Linked DNA regions of Homo sapiens: all the other regions are linked to region 2. The links come from fine-mapping of genetic effects on plasma protein levels. A gene starts in region 2. Each other region holds a variant in brackets. All regions are shown on one strand. Distances are between the middles of the regions.

Evidence for each region. PIP is the chance, under the fine-mapping model, that this variant and not a neighbour inherited with it causes the effect. Protein levels are from antibody-based Olink assays in UK Biobank. Linkage for the fine-mapping came from a reference panel and not from the study's own genotypes, which makes the PIPs less certain.
Region 1: its variant is fine-mapped to the plasma level of the MSR1 protein (UK Biobank, PIP above 0.99). The variant lies in the coding sequence of MSR1. If it changes the protein, the assay may bind it differently, which can mimic a change of level.
Region 3: its variant is fine-mapped to the plasma level of the MSR1 protein (UK Biobank, PIP above 0.99). The variant lies in the coding sequence of MSR1. If it changes the protein, the assay may bind it differently, which can mimic a change of level.

Annotation. Positions count from the first base shown.
Region 1 is chr8:16,106,764-16,114,959 of GRCh38, forward strand. It overlaps MSR1 (macrophage scavenger receptor 1), which reads right to left. Exons shown (of 10, transcript NM_138715.3): 10 at 1,118-3,455. The coding sequence ends at 3,322. Among named protein-coding and RNA genes, the nearest start is that of MSR1, 82 kb to the right of the region's middle. The variant T/C (reference allele first, on the strand shown) is at 3,356.
Region 2 is chr8:16,189,134-16,197,329 of GRCh38, forward strand. It overlaps MSR1 (macrophage scavenger receptor 1), which reads right to left and starts at 3,518. Exons shown (of 10, transcript NM_138715.3): 1 at 3,465-3,518.
Region 3 is chr8:16,150,731-16,158,926 of GRCh38, forward strand. It overlaps MSR1 (macrophage scavenger receptor 1), which reads right to left. Exons shown (of 10, transcript NM_138715.3): 6 at 4,334-4,414. Among named protein-coding and RNA genes, the nearest start is that of MSR1, 38 kb to the right of the region's middle. The variant G/A (reference allele first, on the strand shown) is at 4,355.

The DNA of each region.
Region 1 (8,196 bases), 82 kb before region 2:
AAAATTCCTATATACTGTCTCAATGAATTAAAAAAATCTCAACGTAATCATCTCCTAATTGTGCTTTTCTGAGGGAACATTGTTAATTGTCTACCTGACAAACATTGACTTTTTCCTCCTCTCTGCCATAATCTTGATTTTATTTAGTTAACATGAGATCTTGAGCTTCACCAGCCTTGAGCTTCTCCAACTCCGGAGAGTAAATAATGCTTACCATTGTAACCCAGTGATGGTAAATTTGTATCTCTTGAGTGTGATTGCTTTGGACATACATATCACTGCCATACTGATCAAACAAATGACTGAGGGTAGAAATATTTCATTTTACCCTTCATAGCAAATATTATTACAGTCAACCCTTAAACAATATGTGTTTGAACTGTGCACTGTTCCACTTATACATGGATCTTCCACCTCTACGATTCCTGAGACAGCAAATCCAACTCCCCCTCTTTCTCCTTCTCAGACTACTCAATATGAAAACAACAATGAAGGATGAAGACATTTATGATGGTTCACTTCCACTTGATTAATAGTAAATATATTTCTCTTCCTTATGATTTAATTAAAGTTTTCTTTCCTCTAGTTTATTTTTTTGTAAGAATACAGTACATCATGCATATAAAATGTGTTAGTTGACATTATTAGTAATACAAAAATGGTTAATTGACTATTTATGTTATTGGTAAGGATTCTGGTCACCAGTAGGCTCTCAGTGGCTAAGTTTTGGGGGAGTCAAAAGTTATATGTGGATTTTTCACTGTGAAGGGATCAGTGCTCCCAACCTCTGCATTGTTCAAGGGTCAACTGTATATTATTTGTAATAGGCACATTACAAATTAATGTAATGCTTTACTTAAGTACAAACTACTATGGTCTATACGTTTTGAAAAAATGGAAAGTTTTGATTTGAAACTATTTAGATAATTTAGGTGGAATGTGTTTGGCCCTTAGATATTAATGGTTATTCTTCATTTTCTACATCCCTTTGGTCTTTCTTTTTTCTTCTTCTTTTATTTATATATACATTTTGCATTTAACGTGATGCTGGATGGCTCAACAAGTAGAATACATTCATTCTGGTCAGCTGAGCTATTTTTTCAAAAAAACCAAATCGCAAATTTCTGTTTTTTTTAATGGAACAAATGCAATTCAACATTCCAAAGTAAATTAAGTCCTCAATTTGTATTGGTGCTATTAGGTTCTTTTCTTGACTGGACTGAACTTAGTAGATTCTCTCAAATACAAAAAGGATTTTTAGATTACTTATTAAAGATATATCTATGCATAAGTGGTAAATCAGCATGCATATACCATACAGCAATATAGTATTAACAACCCATAGGCACTGATCTCAGACATCCCAAGTGCCTATGGGTTGTTAATAGTACTATTAACAGTGTCATAGTACTAGTACTAGTAATAGTACTAGTAATAGCAATAGTACTAGTACTAGCAATAGTACTATTATTATTTTAAAGGTAAATTTTATTTTAAAATAAAAATAGTAATAGTAATAGTACTATTATTAGTGTTAATAATACTAATAGTTAATACTAACAGTTAACACTAATAGTTAATACTATTGACAACCCATAGGCACTGATTTCAGACATCCCATGCATACCACTTACGCATAAGTAGTAAATCAGCATACATATACCATACAGCAATACAGTATTAACAACCCAGAGGCACTGATCTCAGACATCCCAAACAGGCTGATAATGCAAATGATTCTTTCAGAAACCATTGTATTTACCTTTTGAAGAAAATACCTAGATAGTGGAACTGAACACAAAGAATTATTAACTAGCTGAAATTACAGCCAGGGTTTGAGACAGAAAGTGTACATTCAGAATTCATTCTCTTAACCACAAAATTATGCTGCCAGAGAAAATCAGCAATGTTAAACAAGTAGAAGAATGTTACATGATAAAAATGCATTTTCAGTAGGCTGTTTACAGTAATTCCAATTCCAAGGTAAGGTTTTGCCTTTTTAAGTTGGACGGCTGTGAGTCTACCACTTGGTTATTATGTGTGGTGAGACTTCAGAATATGAAAAAATGCTTAAGCTTATGCTTTCATTTGCCACTATTAAAGAAAGAACAGTAGAGTAATTCCATAATAGTACTAGTTTACAATTACTTTTTTTGTGAATTAGTCATAGGAAACTTCAGAATTCTGTTATTTTCAGGGCTGAGGTTGAATTCATTTGCGCTTTAATATCAACTGCTGGTCTTTCTGCAGGCAGTCACTTTCAGGGTAGAATTACTGGGTTTCAGGGTAGCTTTTCACACTCTACACTATGGCCCTGGGGATGGGTTGACTACCAACAAAAGGTTGCTAAACTACTTTTTTGGGGCATGCTCAGAGTTATTGTCCCTTTAGGACTAAAGACGCACCCCCCACCCCCCCCCCCGCCCTTTGGTTGTAAATGTTGACTGACTTCATAAAAGACTCCAAACAGTTGAAACCACTCTTCCTTCTGCACTGAAGATGTTTGCATTGTTTGTTAAAATGGATTAATCAGATTTAAATTTTAAACACCATGTCCTAGAATTGTAACAAGCTAATTATTCCATTTAAAGTGCATAACAAACTAAACTTCCTGTTAAGTGGCATTTTTGATCCACCAATTATCTGGACAAATATACTGATGGTCAGTTTTCTCATATGTCCTGCTTTCAATTTACTTCATGATTCAATTAAACAGTTGTCAGTACATGACAAGAAAAATAAGCTCCCTGGTCCATAGTGGCCAAGACATATCATTAACATTGATATCTAATACACAAGTTATTGCACATTGAGATATCTTAATAGTTGGATAACATTCTTATTTTAAAACAATATGTGTGGATTGGAGATTTTGCAATCTAGGCACAAAAGATATCTTCTGATCCCTTCCGTTATTCAGAAAGTAATTAAAATCAACTAAATAGATTACAAAGACAAGAAGAGCAAAAAATTGTAATCTCCTGGTGAACATATTATGAATTGGAGCCAATTACTGGTATGCATTTCTATTACCCTTGGCCTTTGTAATCTGGAAGCTATAAACTTCAAAATGTTCAATTCAGCATATAAGTCATTATATTAGAAAATTCCATTTAAAAACCTATAGAAGTTAAAATGATTTAAATATAGACATAAAATAGTAAGCATGAAGGTGTTCAATATATTAATCCTGTAATCTAAAATATTATTTGGGCAATATTCTTAATCTCTTAAATATTGATTAAATGGATTTTACAGGAACAAGGTAATAAAATCATTTTTGAGCAGCGATTTCATAGTTGTGAATGAAAATATGATGCATTATAAAGTGCAAGTGACTCCAGCATCTTCAGAA[T/C]GTGAACAGGCTCTTGTCCCCCATTGCCGAATTTTACATTCTTCAATAGATGATTCTCTCCCAAAACAAAACACTTCATTCAGCCATATTGGACCAGTACCTGCAATAATGAGGTATAACTGCATTAGTAAGTTTAGAGTTTAGTGTTTCTCTTTGAGTGGGGCAAAGCCATTAATTCCTTCACTAATTAAACAAAAAAGTGTTGATTATTTTCTGTATGCAAGTTCTGTGCTCTCTAGTAGGAATCAAAAATTAATCTCCTGCTTCAGAACACTTTATACTCTGTTAACATGTAAACTACTAAAATGCAAAGTAAGAAGAGCTCTAACAAAGTTACCTACACAGTTCTATAAAAGTAGAGATTAAGAATGTTTTTTTAAGGATTTGACAAATTAGTTTTATTATTAATCTAAAAATAAAGAAGAAAGTTTGAGCCTTAATAATCATGGGTACATGTAATAACCTGATGATCCAAGCGTATCTGTATGTCAAAGGGTCTTGGGGTATATTTGCACATAAAATAAACCGGAAAAAGGAAAACTTAATATCAGCATCTTCCTCCTTTTGTTATCTTCCCGTGTATTTCAATTTATGTGTGCCTGGTTTATCAAATACATTATCTGTTTTTAATTAAAGTAGAACTAATCTAATCAGCAAAGGGCCTACACACCATCCTGTAAGGAAATCATGGATTAAGAATGCTACTGATTGCAAACACAAACAAACAGCAAGAAAATGACAAAGCAAAGGTTTTCCTGAGCTGATCAATTGTAAGAGTGTTAACAGTAAGTTGGAGAGCCCAAGTATTTTTTGAGGTGTTTATAACAGTATTGAGGCTTTTTTACTTGAAATTTTAAGGCAGAAGAAGGAAAAGAAAAAAGGAATATGATCTCAAAATCAGAAACCTTGCCAGGGACACTTTTTAGTTCCCAAATTATCTTACTAGGCATGGCATGTTTCCTATTGTGTTTGTGATTGTATGTGTGAGCATGTTTGTATGTGTATACGTATTTGTATATCTGTGTTTCCTTATAAGTATATAAAGTCTATAAAAACTTTTTGAAAGCCTCAAAGGGCTACTTAAAAATACAGGCAAATAAAAACAATTGCACAAATAGTAAGACTATTCCCATGTTAATACAGGAGGAAGCCGAAGTACGAGACATTTATAAATTATATCTATTATATTTATTGTCATTTATAAATTGTATAAACAAACAGAAATTAAACTTTTGGTGAAAGCCATGGCTCTGTCATAATTTGGAGAGTGCGAGAATGGCTCCATGAATTGTGAACCCGGGCTACTGTGATGCTTTCGAATTGTATTTTGTAGGTCTACTCAGTGAATTTAGATTTCAGCAGTGCAGAATTTGTACAATCCAGGAAAAGGAAACTGAGAGTGGGAATTCTCCCAATGTCTACAGCACCAGCAAGGCCATCCCAACATGAATAGCAAAGGAAAGAAATTATTTAGTTGACTAATGTGCTGACATGTAAGCACATGTTTTTAGAAATTGCAGTAAGGGAATTCACGAATGTTAGAATACCAAGGTTGTGGTCCTGATAATGAAAATTTAAGTCCAGTCTTTTAAGAATTTCTTATGTGGCAGGAAACACTTATACATGTGATGTATTATTCCATGCAATCCTCAAATAACTTTCAAAAACTGAATGCCATTATTGTGTCATTTTACTGTTGAGGAAACTGAAAATCAGCAAGGATAAGGAACTGTACGTGCTCAAAGTCGCACAGGATTCTCACCCTGTATCCACCCTGAGCCACTGCCTTAAATCAATGACTTACTGCAACCTCCTTCATTATTAGACTTACTTATTTAGCAAATCTCCTTTGGTGCCTACACGAGTGAACAAGACCAAACTCCATACTCTTGTGGACTGACTTCCTGGGAGGGCTTATGTTCTAGGTAGATGAAGCAACTGAGATCACATATACAATCATGCCAGAGCAAATACTGGCATCTAGAGCCTCTGATTCTTATTCTGGTTATTTTTCCTCTGAGGACACATGGATGTGACAAATGTATTGTGGAATTTGGTATCTCTGTCTTTTGCTATGTGGAACAGTTTCAGACACAGTGAAAATTTTTTAAGTGCTTGTGTATAAGGTAATATGCTAGGTCTTTTCACATACATTTCTAAATTTACTTTTTATAATAACCTTGTTAAATAATGATAATTATCTCCATTTCATAGATACATAAACTGAGACTGAGAAAGGGTGTATGACTTTCTCAAATTTACAAAGAATAGATCCAGGCAACAGAACATGATGACACTTAAAGCTTAGTGATATTCATGGGTTACATAGATGTCTAGATAGAATTATAGAAGTAATTTCCAAAGATTTGTTGTTTTATTTTTATATTAATATATTCAAGACTATTGAGCCCAGGGGAAAAATTTATTTAATACACATTTTCCGTCTCATTCCAAATTGTTTTCTGCATTAAAAAGTTAATGCAGATAGTATAAAATTCATAAAATTTTATCCTTGTGTAAACCAATGAGATAAAAAACAAATTTGTTTTTATTTCTTTAGATAATAACTGTTATTCAAGGATCTTCGTTGTTGGGGCTGTCACTGTTATTATTTTTTTTGTGCCTCTGAACTATTCTTTCTATTCGGTGGAAAGCTATACAAAAATTACGTGTGTTTCTTAGATATGTTTTTAATCTCTAATCCTCTTCCTCTCTTTCTCTCTCTCTCATCTTTCCACCTATATACCTAGCCATATATATATCTATGATTTCCTTTATAATTTGAGGGTTGTAGGGATTGATATTGATTATATATTTTTTTTAAGTTTTTTTTTTTTTTTTTTTTTGAGACAGAGACTCACTCCCTCTATCGCCCAGGCTGGAGTGCAATGGCGTGATCTCGGCTCACTGCACTTCCGCTTCCTGGGTTCAAATGATTCTCCTGCCTCAGCCTCCTGAGTAGGTGGGATTACAGGTGTGCACCACCACGCCCAGTTAATTTTTGTATTTTTAGTAGAGACGGGGTTTCACCATGTTGGCCAGAATGGTCTCGATCTCTTCACCTTGTGATCCACCCACCTCAGCCTCCCAAAGTGCTGCGATTACAGGGGTGAGCCACTGTGCCTGACCTCCTCTTCACCTCTTTTTAAAAAATGAAAGATACTGATATTTCTTTGGGGGATTTGGGTATCTTTAATCTTACCAGCATTTCCATGAAAAATAAAAGGTAATCAGTTTCATACATCATCCAGATATATTATAAAATGATGAGATTTGAGATCAGCTGCTGAATAGATAAATGGGAGAGCAAATATCATTAATAGTTAAAAGTGCCTGAATGTGTATTTTCATTATTTCTAGTCATGACTGAGTGACATAAATTTGTATGACTTTTAAGCCTAGTTGGGAAGTGTTTTGTGAACAGTGTCTCCATTGAGAAAAACAATGTAAATTAAAGTTGAAAACACCTTGGGAATCAAAGTAGAGAAGAATGGGTCAATATAGCCTATAGTTTGGATTGTAGTTTTGTGCTTATAGAGAAACCACTCATTTTTCCTCAATTTTATGATATGCAGAATAAAGGAGTAAGGCTAACATAGCTTTAAGACTTTGTCTACCTTTAATATTTCATGATACTAAGATTCTGAAGAAGCAAGCTCTTTAGAAATGAAGATCTTAAGTATAAAGGACTTGGAAGGATGTTCCATCTGGTGGAGAAAGCATGGTATGAGAGAAAGGTTAAGGCATGAATCTTGACCCTTCTTCCCACTCCCACCCACCCCCAACCACCCCCAACCACCATAATGACTACGTAAATTTGTACAACTTTGATGACCTCTGCTAGCCCTACTTATTTTCTCTATGAAAAAAATATGCTATTTTTCTGTGATTACCCAGCTGTATGGACCAGCCCTATACTACTTTCCATAATATTTAACATTCAAATGTTTACATTTTAAAACATTCAACATGCAAGGAGCAGTATGTAAAAATTTGACTTGTGACCCTTTGATATATTTATTTATCTTTGAGATTATATTTACTCCCATTCATTAAGGGATAGTTCAGAGGTATAGAGGTGCATTTTTTGATTGCCTTCTGTTTACCCTTACATTTTTTTTTTGAAAATTTCACATAGAAAATTGATTATGGTATGTAAAAGTGGTAATAAAAAAGCAAAGAAAAGACAGCTAAGAATAACTTTTAAATGGCATTTATGTTTATATATTACTTTTGTTTCTCTTTTCAGGTTTGGAGTTTCAGCACTATAAACTCAGGAGAAGAAGCAATAGTTACTCCAGATCTTACTTCCCTCATCAGCATCCATACAGGCTCAGATATACCTGGAACAAATTCTTGGAGGTACCACTGTTGTATGATAAAACTCATCCAAGTTTGCTGCAGGGAGACCACAGGCACAATAGCTGGGAAAGCCTGGATACGGGGCAAAAAGTGACTCACTCTCCTTTCCCTGCCCTGTGCATTGATAAACAGTAGATGCCCCTCAGTGCTTCCTTAATTAAACTTGTTTTGTCTAGTCAGAAAAAAAGGTGCATCCAAATGAGAGAACCTATTTAAAGGAGCATGCTTGAAACTTTATTCCTATAAGTCATTTTACCTGCAGCTGCAAAACTAATTGTTCTTAAAACTAAGGATTCTATCTGCTAAGCCAGGTTTGCTATTTAAAACCAGAAAAAAATATGTGGAGACTGTCCAAAAATTATATTCTTTCTATAATGGTGCATTATAAAAAGAGGGTTCATTTAAATTGTTTTCTGGCTGGGCACAGTGGCTCATGCCTGTAATCCCAGCACTTTGGGAGGCTGAGGTGGGTGGATCTC
Region 2 (8,196 bases):
TTTACATATATTTCATATATACGTAAAACCTTATTTTACATATATTTCATATATACGTAAAACCTTATTTTATATATATTTCATATATGTAAAATCTTATTTTATATATATTTAGATATAATCTTATTTTATTTATATTTCAAATATATAAAATCTTATTTACATTTCATATATATATAAAATCTTATTTACATTTCATATATATATAAAATCTTATTTTATATATTTTTATATATATTTTATATATATAAAATCTTATTTTATATATATTTTATATATATTTTATATATATAAAATCATATTTTATATATATAAAATCTTATTTTATATATATTTTATATATTTTATATATAAAATCTTATTTTATATATATTTTTATATATAAAAAATCATATTTTATATATATTTTATATATTTTATATATATGAAATCTTATTTTATATATATTTTATATATATTTTATATATATATAAAATCTTATTTTATATATATTTTATATATATATAAAATCTTATTTTATATATATTTTATATATATATAAAATCTTATTTTATATATATTTTATATATATATAAAATCTTATTTTATATATATTTTATATATATATAAAATCTTATTTTATATATATTTTATATATATATAAAATCTTATTTATACAGCCATTTTTCTAAATAAAAAATACAGCCATTTTTCTAAAATATAATTTTTTCTTTTAAACTTTTTTTCCTTTTCCCAGGGGGCAATGCTTCACTGATATAAATAATGATGTTATAAATATTTCCTTTTTTTTTTTTTTTTTGAGATTGAGTCTTGCTTTGTCACCCAGGCTGGAGTGTAATGGTGTGATCTCAGCTGACTGAAACCTCTGCCTCCTGGGTTCACGTGATTCTCCTGCCTCAGCTTCCCGAGTAGCGGGATTATAGGCGTTTGCCACCATGCCCAGCTCATTTTTGTATTTTTCACCGCGTTCATCCAGCTGGTCTCAAACTCCTGACCTCAGGTGATCCACCCTCCTTGGCCTCCCAAAGTGCTGGGATTACAGATGTGAGCCACTGCCCCGGCCATTATTTTCATAATTTAGCTTTCTTCTTTTAAAATGTTTCTTTAGGATAATTCATCATATGTGAAACTAAAAAGTGAAAGGAAAACTATTTTGAACTTCTTGGGCTCTACTGTCTTAGTGATCTTTAAAAAGATAACATAAATTTATAAATATTCCAGACTTATATGTGAATATGGCAGTTTCAAGCAAAATTCACTACCATTGAATAATAAAGCTTATTTTAGAATCATTTAGATTTTGATAAGAGTTAAATAATACCTAAAAGTGGTTTTCATTTTTATTTTTTATTATTAATGTAAGAGAGAGATTTCACTGTAATTGTCTGTCATACATTGTTCTTCTTGGGTTATTATCTATTCATATTCACTGCTTATACATCCCCACAGGTTTCTTTTACCTAAGCATGTGAATCAGCTCTTTATGTTTAATACATATTTACCATCTGTCTTTTCATACTTGACATGCATTCGTTTTCCTAAGATTTTTCCCTATTTAGTTTTTTTATCATATTCTTTCTTTTTTCTTTCTTTCTTTTTGTTTTTGAGATGGAGTTTCGCTCTTGTTGCCCAGGCTGGAGTGCAATGGCGTGATCTTGGCTCACCACAACCTCCGCCTCCTGGGTTCATGTGATTCTCCTGCCTCAGACTCCGGAGTAACTGGGATTACAAGCATGCACCACCACGCCCGGCTAATTTTGTATTTTCAGTAGAGACAGGGTTTCTCCATGTTGGTCAGGCTGGTCTTGAACTCCCGACCTCAGGTAATCCACCTGCCTTGGCCTCCCAAAGTGCTGGGATTACAGGCGTGAGCCACCGTGCCCGGCCCATCATATTCTTAAGGCCAACTTTATCTTCAACATTTGGAATAAATAATAAGCTTGTGATCCTCCTTATTATATAAAATAATAACTTTGATTTTTGTAACAGCAGTTGAATGTGTATATAAAATGAAAATTAAATTAAGATTATTTGTGAAACTAACAGCTTTATGCTTAAGGAACCCGTCTGTAAGACAGATTTTAGTAAGAAATGGAAATATTTATATTGTGCCTGATGTCACTGATATTCATCCTTGGTAGCAAAGAAGAAAGAGCATCAACTTTTGAATCTGAAATCTAGATTTGAGTATTGACTGTGACATCATTTAGCTGTGTGATCTTAGGCAAATATTTTAACTTATTTGAATTGAACTTTCTTTAGATATGTAAAATATGATCACAATATAAATTTAAAGAATTATTGCGAGAATTAAAAATAATTTTTGTAAATTGCCTGGTACACAGAAAACCATCAATATATGAATCCCTGTTATTTTAAAATATCACTTTTTTTTTAAATATGAGCTTTTCTTATTTTGTTCTCACGGAATCTTCATGAGGTACAAGTAGTATTTTCTCCATTTTACAGGTTAGGGAACTGAAATGTGTAAGTAACTAGTCAAGTTACTCAACTAGGGAGCAGGGGAGCTGGAATTTGAACACAGGCAGTCTACTCCCAGAAGATTAGCTCTTACCCACTGCATAAAACGGCTAATCACTGCATAAAACATCTGTAATCTCAGTTCTATGGTTTTTCTATAAGTATTTTTACCTGGTCAGTGCAAATGCCAACCTCCCATTATATGCTGTGTGAATCTTACTTAGTCTTCAAGATTAATCAGATTTCTAGCATCTCCATGAAGATTTATTTTTGATAGACTTTTTTCACATAGAAGTAATTTTGGCCTCGCCTATATTTTCATAGTAATTATCTATAGCATTTTCATACTACTTAAGGTGCTAGTAATTATCTATAGTACTTTCATACTACTTAAGGTGCTCAAATTACATTATGCCTATTTGGGGATATGTTTTAAATCATAAGATTCCGGAGCACAAAAAGAACTATATCTTATTTTTTGTATCCTTTCCCCACATCTAGTTCAATGAAGTGCATATAGTAGATACCCAGCCAATATTTGCTATATAATCAAGGGAAGATAATAAAAGGCATTAGATTAAAGCCAAAAATGTTCCATGAAAAGTTATGAAAGGAGAATAGGTGAAATATGTCAAATTATACTTTGAATAAAACCAGTATTTTAAACAAAATATGCTTAATTATATGAAAAAACCCCATTGCTGGTTCAAACTACAAAGCATTTAGTGTATTTCATATGTACTTGTGAACATATATGTTTTTCACTCATGGAAAATTTAGCAGAAATCCCTATTTTTTGATTATCGAAAAAAACCAAACCAAATTATTGCTGATACAATAAAGCATTCATCTCATCATACACACACAGACACACAAATATATATCACACACATGCATGCACACACACACACAGAGTACACACATAACAATCAATAGAAACAATTCTGGAAAAAACATTAAAATAAGCCTTTTTTTTTCTTTACCTTTCGTCCTAAAGAAAGCAGCACTGATTTATCCACTTCTCTCTCTTTACAATTGAAACCTAAAATCTTTATCTCATAGTATTTCAGCATCTGGTACATGAAGAAAGGAAATGACACATTCCTGCGTTGAAAATCTTTCTTAATGTGTTTCAATAGCACTCTCATCAATGCACAGGTTTGCAAAATCTAAATTTGTCAGATAACTCACTCTTCACCCCATTTAGGCCGCTTTAAAAAAAAAAGAGAAGTGAAAAGGAAAAGAAACAAGGGTTGTTGAAACAAGCACATAATTTACAGCAGATTGAGCTTTCCTTTTTTTTTGGAGATGGAGTCTCGCTGTCTCACCAGGGTGGAGTGCAGTGGTGTGATCTCCGCTCACTGCAACCTCTGCCTCCCAGGTTCTACAGGCGTGTGCCATCACACCCGGCTAATTTTTTGTATTTTAGTAGAGACAGGGTTTCGCCATGTTGGTCAGGATGGTCTTGATCCCCTGACCTCATGGTCCGCTCGCCTTGGCCTCCCAAAGTGCTGGGATTACAGGCGCGAGCCACCGTGCCCAGCCTGATCTTTCCTTTTTTATAAGTAATCTATGCCTTCTAAAACATACATTAATTCTCATGATCTCCTCTTTCACGTTACTATAATGTTGAGTAAAGACTCCATGTTTGGCTAGGTGTGGTGGCTCATGCCTGTAATCCCAGCACTTTGGGTGGCCGAGGTGGCTGGATCACTTGAGGTCAGGAGCTCTAGAACAGCCTGGCCAACATGGTGAAACTAGTCTCTACTAAAAATACAAAAATTGGCCAGGCATGCGCCTGTAATCCCAGCTACTCGGGAGGCTGAGGCTGAAGAATTGCTTGAACCCAGGAGGCGGAGGTTGCAGTGAGCAGAGATCGCACCACTGCACTCCAGCCTGGGCAACAGAGTGAGACTCCACCTCAAAAAAAAAAAAAAAAAAAAAGACTCCATGTTTAGAGATTCGAGTTTTTTTCTTAGATCCTTTTTCCTGTACCTTTATCCCTAGCCTCAAACACAAAACACGTGAAGAAAGAATATGATGCCTTAGTAAGAACAAGTAATAACCTAAAAGCACTCACTCCTGTTCTCTCTATAATGATAATAGCATTAATTTTTAGAGCACCAGACAAGTTGTTTATTTCCAGTAGTATAGTAGAGGGAAGGAATCTCAGGCATGGATCAGATGAAAGGGATGTTCTTTCCCTTCTGCCATCCATCAGGGTTTTATACAATTCAACTCCGTTATTTACTCACATTCAAGAAGTTCAAGTATGACTCACATGAAAACGTTCAACATTACATTAATGAGCTAAGTTTTACAACTGATATTTCTGGGAGAAGGTGTTTAGCTTATATTCCGTAGTCACTCTTTTGTGCCCAAACAGGAGAAATCATGCTTCCTACCAAAAGATGCCCCAAATTGCTGTGCCCATGGGCACCATCCTTCAGAAGACAATACGTCTGCAAGAAAGTATGCGGGAACAGCGCACGGTCTTTGAGAGATGCAAAGTAACAGTATTATTCAGTTATTCTTAAGGTAACCACTAAAAGGCTAATAGTAGTAGTAGGACAGGCATCAAAGTAAGCTGCATAATTTCTAACCAGGCAGCTTGAAGACTAGAAGTACGATCACAATTTGATCCAGCCTGGACCAGCATAAATGCTATTGGCTATTCCTCATCAAATTCTTACTGACACAGAACTGGAGACTACAAAACTCACACTCTTTCCTTTACAATTATTTGTACATGCTTCTTATTTTAAAATATAGTCCTTTTAGGTTTTTTTGTACAAAATCTGAAGTTTAAAATTTAGATATCCCTGACAATGCTACGTGATTAGAAAAGTCAGACTCTGGGAATAACAAGACACCAATCTCCCAAAATTCTATCCTAATGAGGTTTCTTTCTGTCAGTGTGCTTTATTTTCAGTATGTCTCTGTAATACTGTTTGGTGTATATCCACAGTGCTGACCACTTCCCTATGTGATGATTTCCACACTCTTCAGCCAATCTAATTTTTCATTAAAAAACTTCCCTTTTTATATGTCTAAATAGGTACTATATAATTTTATATAGTTTTATATATAATAATTATAGATTATGTAACATAATATTATCTATTAGGTCTTACTATATGTAAAAACACCTTTAGCAGGGAACCATGTTAAAAATGTTCAGTTCAAGCCAATGATTAATTGAGAACAGAGGTAATATGTAAAGGGTTGGGATTTTGCATTCATTCCTTCATTTGACTTCACAGCAACTTTGTCATATCACTTCCCTAATTGAGAAATTAATGTTTAGAGATGGTAAGTAAATTTCTCGAGATCAGAGTTATGAGTCATCAGAGCTGGTATTTAAACCCAGTCTGATTACAAAATTTGGCAAAATATAGTTTTTTCTTAAGCTGAAGTAGGTATATGTATTATTAGGGGACTATAATATCTCCATCAAAAACAGTATACAGAAAACAAGCCACAAATATGGGCAAATTCCAGATCATGTGGATAGTTACTTTGTTCATAGTTATTGTGATGGATCCCAATTACTTTATTTTTGTTGCTTATGGATATATGTGTCTAGAATGAGGTCCATGTAAGATTATGCCCAGTGACCAAACAGAGATTCATAATCAAATAGGCAAATGGCTTGAGAGAATTGATTCAAATGTCCTAGGACTCACTGTGGTACAGGTATACTGAACTCAAAAGAAGAGTTAACATTTTACACTCATTAAGAGGTATTTTTGTATGTCTAAAGTTACAGCAGGTTGTTAGTCATAATATATAGTTAATACATTATGACTTATTTATTGTATGATATATATATGATAAAGTTTCGAGATAAAATTTTTCATGTTCTTAATTCAAAGCAATAAGTAAATAGTGATATAAATACAGATTTTAATAATGCTGCAACGGACACATATTGCTGTGGGATTATAAAGCATTTACAGAATTATCAAAACATTCTTTAATAAAATTGACATTGAAAAATTGCATATTGGCAGAGCTTTTTCTTTGATAATCATAAGCAGAAAACTGTGAAGGTACCAGTAACATTTTATATAGCCTTATTAAACAGAACTTTCCTATATGAGAATTATTGAAGTCAAATACAGAAACAGACCAAGGACAGTATCAGAATTGAATAGTATCTTCCTTCTATTAAACCTATAATAATATTTTGGCTTGCCCACACAATCTTAAATTGGTGGTGTTAGTTAAAATTTTAATTTTTTTGCGAGATTTTAAAATTTAATTAACATATGCATTATATTTCAAAAACTTGGTTAAGAACTGTAGGCTTACAGTGTTTAGGTCTAAATTCGTGTTTCTCTATTTTAACATAAAATTATAATAAAATAATATATCAACACTTAATAAGGTATAGAGATCAATATATTTATTTTCTTTTGAGAAACACTGCACTATGCCATACTGTCTATTTTTAAAAGAAAGTTCATGGAAGACTTCTAGTTGCAGCTTCAACATCTAAAGAGCTTGGAAGTCATCACTCATATCTCGACACCACGAAAAAAGCTGGAGAAACTAAAAATCAATGACGTCTTGGACCCATCAGAGAACTGAGGTCTCAAGGAAACTACCAGCCTGAAACCGGGAGAGAGAGGAGATTACAGAGCATCACAGCAGACACCAGATCACCTGCAGCTGATGCCAGTGGAACCACAAACTGGCAGGAACACCTAAGCAGGAATTTGGCAAGAGGCTGAGTATGGACCAGTGTGAGCACTGGAGCCTCCTGGGGGCTGCAGTCTTCAAGGCGCCCCCTAAACACTTACAGGCTTTACTTCCAGGAATACAACTTGGTTCTCACAGTATATACCAAAAAATATCACCTGATGTCCCTGGCAGAGAGAAGGGAAATCTAATGATTTTAAAATATACGTAGAGCATTTCCTGTAACAAAGGCTTACTCCCCAGTGAAAAGAGTTTATCAGAGCGTTATCTTAGCTAGGCAGCTGAAGGGTAACTATTCAATGCTCGCTCCCTCTAGTCTTCCAGCTGCAGTTCAACTTGGCAGAGAAAAAGGAAAAAAAAAAAAAAGTTTAGAAACGCTCATGAAGGTCACAGGTCACAGTCCGGGGACAAGGGCCCACTAAAAGACTGAGATTTAATCAGAAGACTATAGAACACCTCACCCCGCCCCCACATCTCACCCCTCCGTCAACAGAGCTCCCGTATGATAACAGTGGATGACAGGTGAAAGAGATGCAAGGTTTTTTTTGAAAGGGAAGTTTGTAGGGGAACCTAAATACAGTAGAGGCAACAAAGAGACACTACAGGTAATTTTAGCTTCTGACAGCTGTATCTACAGGAAATGTTAGACGTAACCCAGCTCCTAGCTAGATTAATATACAACCTCACACTAAAAGGCAAGTAAGCATACCTAAGACCCTAAAAGTCACACTGTCCTTAGACAGTTAGGGAAGTAGAATGGATAACATATGCCCAAAATACGAATGACTAATTTCCTTGCAAGATCAGCTGTCTCCTGCAAGCAACATTTGACAATTCACCCTTTCCTCGTGATGATGTCTTAACTAAGAAGATACAAAAATGCAAGGAAATGAAAGTGAATATGAGATCACTTTTATGTGCTATTTTAAAAACATAAATGCACATTGCACTGTGTTTAGGGAACTATGGCTTCAGAATTGTAGGAAAGACCCATGTAGTTTAAATGAGTTT
Region 3 (8,196 bases), 38 kb before region 2:
TATCAACGAGTGTTTTATAAAATAAATTGGTGTCTTGGCTCTGAAATATATTACTTTATCTATCATGGACCTGTTCTTACATATTTCATTGTAATCCCAGGGTAAATAAACATAAACATAAACACACACACACACACACACACACACACACACACATGCGATACACAGATTTACTTATGAGTATGTACTATATACTTACACAAATCCAGGGTTTCATATGCTTAAATGAAAACTGAAAATGGCTATTTTTTTTACCCAATATTACTATGGTGATCATAACAACTGTATATAAAAGAAAATGTTATATTCCAGTGAAATAAAATATTTTATCCTAGAGTTCAGTAGTTCTTGATAAACTATTGTAACAGTTTAGGCATCTTATTTTGTCATTATCAATTCAGAGAGAACTCGTTCACCCAGTCTCACTTGATCCCATGGCAGAGAATGCCATGTTGCCTGCTTTAGACAGGAGCATCTTGGGGCCATAAGAGCATCAGAGAAGCCCCTCCAATGCTGACTTCTCAAGTACCTCACAGTGATGCTCAGAACACAGCTGTTCAACTAAAAATCAAGGATGTTCAACTACAAATCAAGTACATTTTCAATGAATGAACAAATAACTCTGTAAATGAAGCATATGAGATACTTTCATAGAAATCAGGCAGTCATAGACCTCTGTTCTTGGAGATGGTTAAGCAGACTCTATATGGCCTATGGAGTTATGTGACTTGTTTGTTTAATGATGGTTCAAAATGTAGTCCCCAAAATGTAAGCACAGCTGTTGAACTTTATTCCATAAGATCAGATACCCTGAGGCTTTCAGGAGGCAATTAACTAATTTTCTACAATAATCTGTGGCAATGGGAAAGGGTCTGGCACCTGCTTCTAACTCATGGACAATATAAGTACAGTTACATGGAATCTCAGCCATGGGATGTTCAAAGAGACGTTAGACATCATCAAGTCAGAATCCATCATTTTAGAGACAGTTCCATGAGACCAGAGTGATCAAATCACTTACATAAAGCTGGTCTGATAATTATTCACATGTCCTAGGTGTCCTGCTCCATTCAGGCTCCTTCCTGCAAAGTAGCAGACTGGTTAAGGGCATGGACTCTGCACTCATGCCCATTGGGGTTCAAATACCAGCTTTGCCACTTACCAGTTGCTGATTGACCTCAAGCAAGTCATTTAACTTTACTGTGCATTGCACCTGTAAAATGGGTGTATTATTTGTTTCTGCATCATCAGGCTGATGTGATAGTTAAAAGAGCTCATACACGTAAAACACTTAGAAAAGTGCCTGGCATGTAATGACTACTTTGTAAATGTTAGCTTTTCTTGTTCTCCTCCCCCTCTTCCTCATCCTCCTCCTCAGTAATACAATCATTATTTTTACCAGCCTGTTGTAAAGGCTTCTAAATTTAGTTTTATTAAATGATACGTACACAGTTAGCAGTGACATTTTTTGATTCACTGGCACAATTTGTTACTTCCAGAAAAAACCCACTTTCAATACTCAGGTGTAGAGCGACAGCCTGCAGCCAGGCAACATTCCTTACTCAGGTGTATATTTAAGGATCCTGTCCTTGCTGAAGCTTTAGGGAGGGGCCTTCTTGGGGCCATAGCCTATGGGAAGGGGCGGGCCAGGGTAAAGATATACGTGGATATAAACATTAATAAAATATGGTTCCTCTCTTCCAATATCTATGGGTAAGATGAGCTTTATTTTCTCTTCTGGAAGCACGATTCCTATGGTGGAAAATTCAGACTACGTAAGGAAGTAAATAGTACTGGTTGATGATGAAAAGTTTGCAGCCAGAGAAGCCTTCAGTTCTCTCGAGGGCATCTCATGTAGGTAGCCCCACCCATGCCTACAGGTCAAACTACCTTGTTATTGATCACATTGGGCATAAACAGCTTCTTAGATGGCCCACACAAAGTTTCCTTTAGAAAAGAAAGTTGCTTCTCCTTCAAAACATTGTTGTCATGGGTAAAATCAGCCCCTTAAAAGAAACTCACATGAGATAAAAAATCCTTGATCATGACATTTGCCTCCCTTATATTACTACTTATCATCCTGGAAGCGCTGTGAATTCAGAGATTCTGTATCTGTTTACACATACTCTATAGGGTATTGTAGAACACCAGGCCTGGAGAAAGTGCTCAGCACATAGTTTTTGAGTGAAAAGTGATAGGTCATTCTCCCTAGCATGCTTTCAAGGAAATAGCCCTCTAAAATAAATTTGTTATTATTTGGGGAATAAAGCATATTTAAACATAATATCCACCCTAGTATATGAATAATAATTCTACTATATTTAATGTATTAGTTATTTGAGGCTACTAGGACAACCACTTAGGTTTTGCAGATATTCGCATCATGATTGTGAGTCTAGGTGAGTTTGACTTGGTCAAGCTGAGTTTAGTAGGCTCAAATGGATGTAGAGATGGGGAAGCAATAAACCTGCTCAGATTAGAAAGCAGAATTAGTATGATTGTCCATCATATACTCTTTGCTTCCTGATTTCGGCATCAAATATAAGGCAATTAGACAATCTGGTGGAGAAACGAACAGAATGCAGCAAGACATCCAGAAATAATTCATTAGGAAAGATGCCTGGTATTTTGAATACTTTTCTTGTAGTGCACCAAACAAAATGGTAACCTGATAACCTAGAAGAGTCATTGATTACCCCAGGAACTCGACCTGTCTTTTATGAGGAACTGGGTAATGCCTATTTGTGTAAATGAGCAGTACCAAAAGCAACAAATTATGACATCACTTTTTACCCTGTAAATTTAAACCATGACAAATCGTTAATTTACAATAAAAAAAAAACAAAATCAAAGATTCTTTGCAATGGTGTCTATTTATAACATTAACACAAGCTGAAATTTATAAATCCTTCTATTTCATACATTCACAGTTCAGAAACAGCTGCAGAAGATTCTCCCAAGATGAAGCACTGTATGGCAAGATGTAGCCCAGACTGAATTTTTATGGTTGAGTTATAAAGCTCTGACAATTGCAGCCTGTATGGAGGGGGTGATAGACCCTTGACAATGGTAGTTCTGGCAGCAGATTTAATACTGGTTATTTCCTCTGCTTATGACATTAATGCAGCATTGTTAATATCTGATTAGCATTAGTCAAGTAGAAAGACTTTCCTGAATAAAAATTCTTTCCTGGCAAGGCATTCAAAAGCACATCAATACTAATACCACCTGACTTGGCATATTATATATATGGGTAGGATTGCTATTTTATATATATAAAACATGTGTACCTGGATGTATATCATCTATCTTCACATATAATATGCCATATATATTTATATACATATATATACATATATGTGCTTAGGCAGGTATCAAGTTCATGCTTCTCATTTTCAAAAATTTTTCTGATGTGACCAGGGCTAGTCAATACACTGATCAGAAAGAAGAACCTTTTATATAATCAAAAGACAGAAAAATAAGATGAAGTACATGGTATTTAGACATGTTTTGGTAACACAAACCATTCTACTTATAATTAGACCTTGCAGTATACTTCCTACCATCAAACGGCATGCAGGATATTTGATTTCAAGCCAAGGCTAACATGACAATCATGTTATTATCTTTTTTATTTTTTCAAGCAAAGAAAGTTCATGTTCTCTCTTCTGTGTCTTCTTTCAAAATATTTCTTTCAAGATTACAACTTAGAGGAAAATAATTTGAAACAGTTTTGCTCTTAGTAAAGCACAGAGAGTGACTGTCAGCAAGGTAAGTGTCATCCATATTTTAGCCAATATTTACATTCAGATTTCATTAGTTTAAACAGATATATTCCAAATACTATATAAGAAATATAGTCCAATTTGCTTGTGATTCATAACTCACTACTAGTGTGAGTTTTTATGTCTTAAAAATGAGATAGCTTGCAAATGTGAAGATGATTTATTCAACGCAAAGATAATTGTTGTACTCCCCTTCACATATGATCTACGGTTAGGTCTGCCTTATACTGTTTGCTGTCTATTATATACATGTCACTATCTAGACTTACAAACAATTCCATTTGGTTACTCTGGTTAAAGCATTTATTTTCTTCAACAGTCATGAGTAATGCTTATCATTCAGTGTATTATGTGATTAGGCTACTAGAACATTTACTAATCCCCCAAAACACACACACATATACACACATGTGCGTGCATACACACACACACACACATACACATCCTCTGCAGGATATAAATAAAATAGCAATCCTCCCCTACACATGTACCTGGATGTATATCATCTATCTTCACAGTATATGATTAAATAGCTAAAATTACCATACCTATTGGACCTGGAAATCCTC[G/A]TGGACCACTTTCTCCAGTGGGACCTCGATCTCCTTTTTCACCCGGGGGTCCAGGAGGACCTTTAAAAAAATTACAGTTACTGATCATAGTTGTAAAGCATAGGAAAAATGGGTTAGTCATCTGTCAAGGTACTTATATAAGGAAATCCAAAGTCTTCTATTTGTTGTGCAATAATATAGAATGTATAATACTGAACTTCATGAATGGAGGAGTATTCTGCTATTCAGGAATATAATGCCCTATACTAATGAGGATGACATTGCCTCAAAGTAAACAACCTAACAGTATATTAAATGTGAGTGTGCCTAACACTTTTCTATGTTCTGAGAACCTGGGGGCAGAGAAAAGACAGCAGGCTGGCACAAAGTCACATTAGTGTTGTACGCATCCTAGGCAGTTAGACATAGAGTTAGATATAATACAGAATTAGCTACTATACGGAAAATCTATAAGTAAGAACTTAAAAGACATTTGTGATACCCTCAAGGGAAAGGAAAATTCACACATGGTAGACAACCAGAAAGCACTTTGTTGGAACTGACCATAAACTCAGATATTTGTCAGTGAACTGTAGATCGGCGTGAATGGTGATGGTTGAAGTCTTCATTGAGAAAGTAGGATATGAGGGGTACTTTCAAGAATGAAGGGAAGGGGAAGGAAGACAATTCCTAGGGATTGAGAAAGGCATGAGGAAAGGCAGGAAGGTGAAAATGAGTAGAGGAATTCTTTTTTCAAGTAAAATATTAAGTAGAATTTCTAGGTTGCTATAAATACTGTAAACAAAATGGAGACATTGCAAGGAAAACTTTGGTCTCATCATTTTTTTTCAGGTGGCTCTCCTGAGAGCTGTAACTAAACAACCCTGATTTAGCCATTTGTATTTTCTGTGTCCAGCAAAACAGATACCTGCTCATCATGCCTTTAAAATGATTATACCTAGCATGTCTTTAGAACTCAAAGGTAATCCTACCTAAACACCATGTTCCATATGGAGTACAGAGGACAAATAATCTCTTCTTTATCTAAAGAAGAGCACTTAGTTTCCTTTTCAACACCAGAAGAAAGAAACAGAAAGAAACATTATTCCATAGATTCACCACAGAATAAGGAAATAGTGATATTTTAAAGGAAGCATTTTCAATTGCTAGTTTGGACACATACATAGTCCAAGGAAAACAAATATATACAGCATCCCTGGTTAGAATGCACTTGTTTACAAATTTTAATCAGGTGGGAGACATAATACCCGAAGAAATCTAAGAGGGGGAACCACATAAATAAATAAAGATTATCTCATGAATAAGTATATTTTGTACATTTTGTTGTTGCTTATTTTGACATCCTTGACTCTACTTCTGTCTATTCCTCTGGTATGTCCCATTTTCAAGGTACAATTTGGGTTTTAGAGGCCCAAGATATCATTATTACTCTTCTCAATAGAATGTCCCTTTCTCCTCATATGCAACATTGGACACACATTTAATTGTATTTTTATTATAAAAGCAACTCTACTTATAGGAAACATAAAAGCCTAGAAAAAGCGTGAGGAAGAATATAATTCGTAGTTGTGTTATTTTAACTAAAGATCTTTACCATTTCTTTCCTAAGTGTGTACGTGTATTTTTTTTTTCCACATAATCGTCATGCAAACAACATGTTACAGGGCTTTTAGAAATTAACTGGTGTATTATATTCTAAGGTATAGCTTAATTGCTGCGAGACATATATTTAAATGCTGCACAAGAAATGTAAGATTTCTGTATCAAAGGGAATCTCTATGTGCCCCCTATTCCCTGCAGAAGAATGTAGTACTTCCCAAGAAAATGGAGTTATGGTAACTTCCATAACCATGAACGCAGCTGCATCCATTCAACACTACATAGCAATGAATCCCAGGGGAGGGGGGCAAGCAGGACAGACACTCAATTTATGCCTGAATTTTGTTGAGCTAATTGAAGGGAAGCACAGGGATAGTAATCAAGGATGGTATTTTGAAAAAAGTGCGCAAGCAAAGATTTCAGTTTAGTAACTCAGGATCCAAAGCAAGACGCAGACATTCCAGGAAAAACTAGAACATGAAACAAGAAGAAACAAGGGACACAGAGAATAGATCTAGACTCTTAGCCTCTGAGATGGACTTCTCACCATTTCTTTGGTAAGTAAGAGATGGAAGGAACTCTCCTAATTACTAACTATCCTTTCAATTATATTACATGTAATTATGGGAACTGTATACTTAATTTTGGAGTATTAGTTCAATCACAGCGAATAGATCAGTATTATTTTACAAAATTTGGAGTTAAAGATCCCTCTCTGTATTTTTATATAAAAATACTGATACCTGGTATTCGAATCCTACAATAAGAAAAACAGGTAAAGATTTTTGTTAGAGTTCTAACTAGGCATGTTGAATGTACCTTTTTATTGTCATTCTATTCTTCATGTAACATTAATCTCACATTATGTTTCATTTTTGTACATTGTTATAGATCTTTTACTGTTTCTAACAAAATGTTGGAAGGATCTCAATAAATGTTTTAAGTGTCTTTTAGATTCATTGGGGGAATAAAATAACAAATTATATACCACTTTACTCTTAGTTTCTGATGCAGAACTTTTAAGAACACTATCCACTACCTTGCCACCTTCCAAAACTAGCCTCCTCTCCATTCCCATTGTAGCTCACGTCTTCACCATCACACAGCTGGACTATTGCTAGAGATTTTTAATCTAGTCTGAATGTGTTTTATCTGTTTCACCTCCTAGTTCCCTCAGTGTTGGCTTTCTTCTTCTTTTTGATAAGAATCCGTTTTGCAATGTCTCTATCAAATTAAGGAAATGCAGTAACCTATTCTGTCATATTATGGAAAAAAGAATAAAGACTTAGAGTCTCTTGTAGTCACCTTTTGTTCGTAGTTTCCATTTAGTCTTTTCAAAATTTTGTTCCATACTGACATAATAACTGCCTCGTTGCATCAATAAATGGACAAAATGCTACCTGTCAGCTCCCTTGCTGATACATGTCAAAAAAAATGGGTTAATATTGGCCAAAATATATGATTTATTCTAGTTCAAGAAGCCATAGAATTTACATTATTTTTCATCTTTAATATTTCCAATTACAGTTACAGGAATAATTCATAAATACTATCACAATAATCTGCCATGAAGAATTACCTTTATACAACACATGCACAAAATCTACTATGTAGCTTCCTCCATGATTACTTCTTAAAAAGGAAAAGTAATATTTCTATATAACCACAAAAAAGTACTGATATATAATATTTGATAATCATCAATATCATAGAACAAAATTACACAATTTACTAGAAAAACAAACCCAGGTGTATCATATCATTTAAAATCCTCAGACGATAACATAGCACTAATAATATCTGACTAAGTTTCCAGAGCGATGCTTCTCTAGTTTTTATTCATTATGAGCATTAATCTTCTACTCCGTTTTCAATCTTGTCTCATATTCAGATCATCATAAAAATCTGCCACATCTTCTAGTCTATTGCTGCCTAAACCTGCTTCTTTTTTTTTTCTCTAGTTTTCATGCTCATTGATTTAGATATGTTTAATCTGGAAGACACTTTAAACATTGTTTAACTAAACATATTTATAGAGGGTCAGAGAGTGAGTTGCTCAAGGTCTTAAAGCTAGTTGGGTTAAATCAGAACTAGAAGAATTTCATTTCTTTCCTGATCCTATGCTACCATGTTCTAAATTTAATTGACTTCATTTTCCACATCTGTTCTTCCATTATTCCTCAGCTGAATTTTTCCTTTACATAGTGGTTAGACAAACTCACAATTCAGTTTTTTTCCTTTGG